Homo sapiens: one gene and its partner. The protein of the gene in region 2 interacts with the protein of the main gene of each other region in a pairwise test. Each region holds a gene or a part of one and is shown on either strand. Other genes may lie near its edges.

Region 1 (3,818 bases), on a different chromosome or scaffold from region 2:
GTATAAAACATTATGCCAGTGTCTCCCTTCTGCACTCATAAGCTGTGTCTACACAGGCAGGGTGGACTGGAGACCAATGTCATAATAAACGATAAACACCTTGTAAGGGGACACGCTGTGTCTGGCCACCCAGAACTCAGTCTCCAAAGCCCACTGCATGAGAGGCAGGGGCAGGAACCCCCAATTATACATTTCAGAAGTCATTTCACCTACTAGGAAAATGAGACACAAAGTATGTAGAAATCCGTCATGTGGTGTGTGGGCAGCCAACCCGAATAACTCAGGACCTCCAAAAGAGCAGACTTCTATTCCTCCTGAGTAGCAGATCTTTCTCTCCCAAGCTGACCGGTCGAAACCCTGATTGAGTCCTTCAGTTCCACACTTTCCTTTTGCTCTATATGATAAATATAGTCAGGGCCTGACCCACTTCGGTTATCCCAGGGTCCCAAGGGGAACGCGGAGTTGCTGCTCAGGGCAAGGCAGGAACACAACAAGCAACATATGGCTCCAGTGCCAACAACGCAAATACATTTTTAGATGGCATGTGGCATCAGACTCACCTTCTTCGTGTTCTCCCTGGCCACTTATATGCCCTGTTGAAACGCCCTGTTACTATATCTCAGAAACGTCTCTCCTGCTTCATTGGAGAGCAATGCCAACATTTGGAGGTGGCCATCAGCTTAGGTGAGATTTATGGATGTCACCAGTCCCCATCCACTGACATATAGTAGTGAGCCTGACAAAGCAGTGCCTGGGAACAAGGAGGGGAGGCGAAGACGGGGCTGGCAGCCTAAACTGCAGAGGATGTGCGGTGTGGCCAGAGGGGAAACTGAAACCAGGGAAGGAAAGAGGTAGAACTTTGAACTCCTTGAGGCTCCCTAATAAAGCATCACTCTGGATTAACGGGAATTAGGAAACGTAATAGGAAATCCGGAGGAAAGACGTGTATTTAAGGGCAATCCCACAGGATGTCAGGGAAGAATACCAAGAACAGATTGCCACAGCCCTCGCATAAATTCATCTTCCTCTTTTTTTTCCCAACCAACAGGAATACGTTCTCAAGTTAGAGACATCCCTTTCAAGTTGATGCTCAGCACATAACTGCTTAATAAACGGGCACACCCTGCCCTCCATTCTGTTTGGCTCTGGCTGGAGAGTCAAAAGAGAGGGGGCCACGGGGAGGCCATGCGGGCCACATGGTTTTTCAGAGATCAGACGCTATCTGTAGACATTTCTATGGCTGCTAAAGACAAAACCAAAATAAATGTGCTGGCTGGCTTCCCACTTCCAACCTAAACCCATTTACTTTCTCAACTCAGTGACTTCCGGGCCTGTCTAAAAACAGAGGGGTGACCTCTCCGACGACAGCTAGTTTCTATAGTAATGTGGGGTGCGGGGATTCCCGGGTAGGCATCCCACAATGCCTCCGGGCTGCGCGAGGTTGATAAGGGAGCAGCACCGAGCTCGCCTCCACACCCCCAACAGCTGTCTCCTTTCTAGGATAAGCACAATCAGACGGGGTTGCCAGGAAAGAGAACTGCAGGCCAGATGTATGCCTGGCTGCCTTCGCCACTCGGAGGCAGGGAGCGTGGGGGAGGGGCCGCCAGTGCGGCAGTTCAGACTCCAGATGCTGCCAGGCAGGGTGCCAGGCCAGCCTTTTAGAGGCAATAATCCGAACAGTTTAAAGGAGTAGAGTCATTTTCAAAAAGGAAAAGAGCGCTCTTCCTGGTAGGGTAGGAGGAGACAAGGGTATGGATTTGGGGCGTGGGAGGCACGGAGGCAGAAAGGGAGGTACAATCAGCAATCAATCTCGGTGTCGCCCCTGGAATCAAGGGAAAAAGGAAACGTGTGAGATTTGGACATGCAGGCACCTTCCACTTAGGGAAGACTGCTTGTGAGAACCGTGAGGGATTTATGGATTTGTGTCTGGCCAAATTCCCTTTGTGTTCCAGAAAAGTTGCCACCACACAACCAACACAGGGCTACCTGAGGGACACATAGCCACGGAAGCCCCCGTTGGAGGGAAACTCACAGAGTAGCCAGGGAGGAAGGAGGGAGATGTGTTCGTCTACAGAATGAACATCCCTTGTTGCCCAGTGCTGGGGGTGTCATGTCACTCTGGACGTGCCTCCGGATGTCGCATTGCCTGTCACCTGGGAGGACGTCCGTCTCTGGTGGGGCCTTGGGGTTCTGATGTCAGAAATATCCTGTGTAAGCCCAAGAAGGGCTGAAATGTCCAAGCATGTAACGAGGTCTTCTGCTTTCTGCCCCTCTCTCCCTTCCCCGGCCTGTGTGTTCTCAGGGCAAGTCATTCATCAAAGACGCCTTGAAATGTAAGGCCCACGCTCTGCGGCACAGGTTCGGCTGCATAAGCCGGAAGTGCCCGGCCATCAGGGAAATGGTGTCCCAGTTGCAGCGGGAATGCTACCTCAAGCACGACCTGTGCGCGGCTGCCCAGGAGAACACCCGGGTGATAGTGGAGATGATCCATTTCAAGGACTTGCTGCTGCACGAGTGAGTACTGCCCCGCAGAGGGCCTGGGTGAAGGGGCCACCCAGCAAGGATGGCAATGTGTATGGGAGGAGAGCCGCGTTGCTTCTAGAGGCTGAATGCCTGTCAAATGGAGAAGGCTTCCATTTACTTCAGAAAGCTACACTGACTCTACTAAAAGGCCCCTTTCCTGCTGGCTTTTAGGAAAAGAGAGAATTCCCTCATCAGTCTCAAAATCACAAGCAACAGAAATGGGAAATCGTTTTACTAAGAATGAAATGTGTCGATTCAGTAATACTCTTCATCTTCCCCTTAGCCAAGAACCCACTAGCTCTCAGAATATTCTGAGTAGCTGTAGAGGTGTCCTTACAGACAGCAAATTGCTAATAACATTTGTTGAATATTTACTAAGCGCCAGGCACTGGGCTAAGGGCTCCTTGTGAATTTTTCACTTGATCCTCACCACAGCCCTCGTCACCTCCATTTGACAGATGAGAAAACTGAGACTCACTAAGGCAGAGCTCACACAGCTAGTGACAGGCAAAGCCAGACTTGGGACCTGGCTCCAGTCTGCTGAGCAGTCTGCCTCCAGAACCTATACTCTTAAATCCCGAAAACAGAGCTATAGATGCTTTTCCTGCCTCCTTAACTTTCCTTTCCCTTAGAAGGTTCGGTTTACCTTCTCTCATACATTAGTGCCCTCTCAGAGGAAATGCAAAACAAGTGCCAAAAACTTTAATCAGCTAAACACTTCTATGCCAAAACAAGGAAATGTGAACTTACTTATTTCAAGACTTGAAATTCAATGATAAATTCAGGATGCATCATTTCTTACAAAATATTTCAGCCACAGGATCCTAAATTTTGCAGCATGGTAAAGCATGTTGGTACACAATTGTTCCTAACATGAGGCAGGGCCAGGAGCCCCTGAAGATTTTTTTTTTAAATATTGACAATGGCTCTTTCCTAAGAGACACAGGGCAGAAAGAAAGCCACTAGCCAACCAGTTCAGTACAAGTCATTACCAGTTTGATGGCACTGTTGGTCTCTCCACGGTGACTCATTGAGCCAAATCGGTATAATTTTATGAACTCTTGATCCTCAGTTTGTGCCACAACCTTCTTCCAGTTATGTCCCTACCACACCAACACCACTTAGATGACAGAGAACAGCAAGCACCTCCTGTCTCTTTCCACTTGGTTATAAGGTCATAGGCATCTTGCAACACCCTTGCTACAGTGTTAGAATCATACAATTCATGGCGAAACTCTGCAGGAAGCTCTTGCCAAAAGCAAAACAATATTGCATTTTCCTCGAATTAGGCTAAC
Region 2 (3,818 bases):
CTTTGGTAAGGCAGATGAGAGGGAAGCTGGGCTGATGGGAAGCACTGAGGGAGTGGGTCAAAGTTCCAGGGCTATGTCCGAGGGTGAAGTACATCAAACTGGGGTGAACCAAAAGCAGGATGAGGGTCATAGGGATGACTGACGGCCTTCACCAAGCCTTGGCAACTGGTGAGAAACGGTCCCAGGGACCAAGCCTGGAGAAACAGTACAGAAGGGGTGTGTGTGTGTGTGTGTGTGTGTGTGTGTGTGTGTGTGTGTGTGTGTGTCCGGCTTTAATTTCCTAATATGAGGCTATATGAACTCTCATGCTGGTTCTGAGATGTTTGACCAGAACGGGATGGTAATATTTTCCTCTGAAGAAAGGCTGGAAGCTGGGGGTGGGACAGCCTGAGGATGAGAAGTCTGAGACTGTTCCTAATAGCCAGTGCCAACAATAACCACTTTTATAGTCCTTTGCTGAATTCACTTGATCTTTCTGACCACGTTGTGAGTTAATTGTTACCATCCGCATTCTATAGATGAGGACTTGGGAACTCAGAGGAGCTTCATGACTTGTCCAACATCTTACACATGGCAGAACTAGAACTCAAGCTGAGCACGTTAGACTCCAAATCTTGTTTTTAAACAGTTGGGGAAACAGCTAACAAGCAGGTAAGCAAACAGGAGGAGATGCAACCCATCTCTAGGATATTGGCTTAGAGGAAGCCAATATGAAGAAATCCTAGGAAACAGAAAGTCTTGGCCCCCGCTTTTGCACCGGCCCTGAGGTGACCTTTCCCCTGATGCCCACGTACAGGTCCATGAAGTGTCCATTCACCATGCTCGGGGCTAAGGAGGAACAATCAGATTTCAAAGCCCCCTCTACCCCACATGGTAGGGTGGAGAGCAAATCCCTATGGGGCTCTTAACCCCAGGAGAGAAGAATCAAGGTTCAGAGAAGCCAGCCTTATTCCTGAATCTTCCCCACAAAGAAGCCTGTAGTTCCTCTTAGGTGCTTTCAATGCTCTCTCCTTCCAAGGGAGAGGGAGGTGGGACCTTTCCGGCCTCAGGTCTGAGGGATGACATCGCATAAGGAGTTAAGGGTGTGTGTGTGGCAGTATAACTAATGAGCTGGTATCAATAGACTTTTATTATTTTTCAGCTAAGGTGGTAGGCACTCCAGAGTTGATCAGCTCTTCAGAATCCCCTAGGGCAGCTGAGCATCTCTCACAATCTCTCAGCATTTTCGATCAAGTGTAAACAGTGGGGAGGGGAAGATCTGGCTTTTCTTTACTGGTGCTATGATGCTCCCACCCTCTTGTTCAATCTCACACTGACCAACAAATGTGAGGAGGAGGGAGGGGCGTTCAACCAAGCCAGGCTAGAAGAACACCATCAACTATAAGTACCAACGGGAAAGGTGCTGGAGGCCACACTCCCAGGCTGAGTAAGAGGGACGTGGGGATCCTGGCTCACCTGCTGGAGTCGCCGCAGGCACTGCCGCTGCTCTTGCTGCTGCACGTGCAGGTTGGAGAGGCGCACAAGCTGGTGAATGGCCTCGTCCACTTCCTGATACAGTGTAGCTGGGCCTTGGCCCTCCAGCCTTGGGAAGGAGCAGAGAAGAATGAATCATTTCCCTTGTTGAGCCCCTCAATTCTGTCCTTCCGTGCCTCTGAGGGATGCAAACATGAGAGGTTGCATAGCAGCATGGATCAAAAGCATGGGCTGAACCCTGACTGCTTTGGTTTGAATCCTGACTCTTTACTGACCGATGTTGGCCAAGACAGTTAACATTTCTGATCCTCCAAATCCTCATTTGTAATAGTAAATGGCACATAAGGATGTTGTGAGGGTTATGAGACAGTAAGTGTAAAAGCATAGTATCTTGCCCAGATACATGCACAGTAAGAATGGTCTGGCAGCTAAGGTTTGTTGGCAGCCTTCAGCTGTGTCTCCACCTCCCACTTCCACCTGCCTCCGCACACCCATACTTCGTACTTGCTGCTGGGAGTGGAGCGCAGCCTCATCAGGATGGCCCCCCCATCCCTCTGCAGTGCCGTCAGCCGGGGATCTGCCAGCACCTTCTGCAGTGGCTTGGGCATTCCCACTGCCTCCTGGGGATAGGGAGGAGTTGCCAGTTGGGGTTCCACCAGAGAGTCTCCACCCCAGCCCCATCCCAATCCCATCCCCCCACTGTCCCATCTCATTTCATACCTCTTCCTCTGGCTCTGCTGCTCCCTCCAGCTCCTCAATGGCCTGCCGTACCGAGCCCAGCACACCTTGGCACAGGCGACATAGCCTTACCACTTCCTGAAACCCACATGCAGGGATGGAGTTGAGGATCAGAGTTTAAGAAGGAACTTAAGCCCTAGGGTTGGGGTGCGGTAGCCCCAGAGACTTTTATGGAGGCAATGCTGAATTCAGTTCCTGACTTTGTTGCTAACTAATTGTATGAGGTTGGGCAGGTTCAGAAACCTTCCTGAACTTCAGTTCCTCAACTGTAAAGTCAGGATAAGAAAGGCTTCTGTGATTTTTAAGGAGATGATGCCAGTTTAGCAACTAACGTGGGCCTGGCACATTGTACAGCTTGGTAACTGTGACCTTCCTGTCTGTCTTCAGTGGGGCTTCCCCCTGTCACACCCCCTCTCTCTGCCTATTCATGTCAATTTCCCCTTTGACACTAAAGGCGAAGCTTAGAGACCATCTACAGACCCCTCTTTCATACTCAGCTCAGATCATGTTTATTTCTCTCTTCTTGAATACTCACAACACTTATATTCATAGAATTACATGAGATAAGTGCTGGAAGGACCTTTAGCAATTATATTGTGATTGTTATACTGCGCTGATGAGGATCCTGAGGCCTGGATGTTGGTGCAAGGAGCGGATACAGAAAGGGCACTATTTCTGCAAGTGAGGTAAAGTAATTTGGAACAAGAACCAGCCTTTTGACTCTCAGTGCTTTCCAGAAACCCAATGACACTATCTTGCACTCTTCTCTACTTGTTTCATGATTTATCTCCCACCAAAAATCATACACTACTTAATGTCATATTAAGAATTTATTTGGCTGGGCATAGTCACTCATGCCTGTAATCTTAGCACTTCGGGAGGCTGAGACGGGTGGATCACTGGAGTCCAGGAGTTTGAGACCAGCCTGGGCAACATGGCAAAACCCCGTCTCTACAAAAAAAAAAAAAAAAAAAATACAAAAACTAGGTGGGTGTGGTGGCACATGCCTGTAGCCACAGCTACTCAAGAGGTTGACATGGGAGGATCGCCTGAGTCCAGAGGGTCGAGGCTGCAGTAAGCTGTGATCGAAGCATTGCACTCCAGCCTGGGTGACAGAGTGAGACTGTCTAAAAATAATAATTATAATAATTTATCATACTCCTCCTATCTCCCCAGTAGAACATGGCACAGTGCACATGTTTTCCTCATGATTTGGGAGCCATAAATACTTGTTGAATTGAATGGAATGGAAACCACTTTTTTGCAACCTCATGGTATGTCCTGGACATGGCCTCTCTCCTAGAATGTCTTCAGCTGGGTTATTCCTGGCTCCCAGCATGCTAGGTGGTAGAGGGGAAGCTTACCTGGTGTATCTCTACCCAGTGACTGGGAGAGGGGTCCCTGTGACCTCCTAACTCCCACTGCAGCTCCTCTGGCTTGGCCACTCTTTTCAGATCATTCTCTGACAGCACCTCAGCACCCTGTAGAGGGTAAGGCAGGGGGTTTCTTCCTGGGCACCCAAGGACTCAGAAACCAGCCTGGGGCTCCAGCCAGCCTCTTCTCCTCTCCCCACTACTGATGGGAAACTAGATGGGAATGAAGGGCTC

Evidence for each region.
Region 1: the proteins of ARHGEF40 (region 2) and STC2 interact in a two-hybrid assay, tested with the Homo sapiens proteins (one large-scale study listed by BioGRID and IntAct).

What each region holds. Positions count from the first base shown.
Region 1 is NC_000005.10:173,321,915-173,325,732, reverse strand, and holds part of STC2 (stanniocalcin-2 precursor), read left to right. Parts: intron 1-2,302; coding exon 2,303-2,514; intron 2,515-3,818. UniProt on the Homo sapiens protein: Has an anti-hypocalcemic action on calcium and phosphate homeostasis.
Region 2 is NC_000014.9:21,076,648-21,080,465, reverse strand, and holds part of ARHGEF40 (rho guanine nucleotide exchange factor 40), read right to left. Parts: intron 3,693-3,818; coding exon 3,576-3,692; intron 2,290-3,575; coding exon 2,194-2,289; intron 2,094-2,193; coding exon 1,978-2,093; intron 1,583-1,977; coding exon 1,456-1,582; intron 1-1,455. UniProt on the Homo sapiens protein: May act as a guanine nucleotide exchange factor (GEF).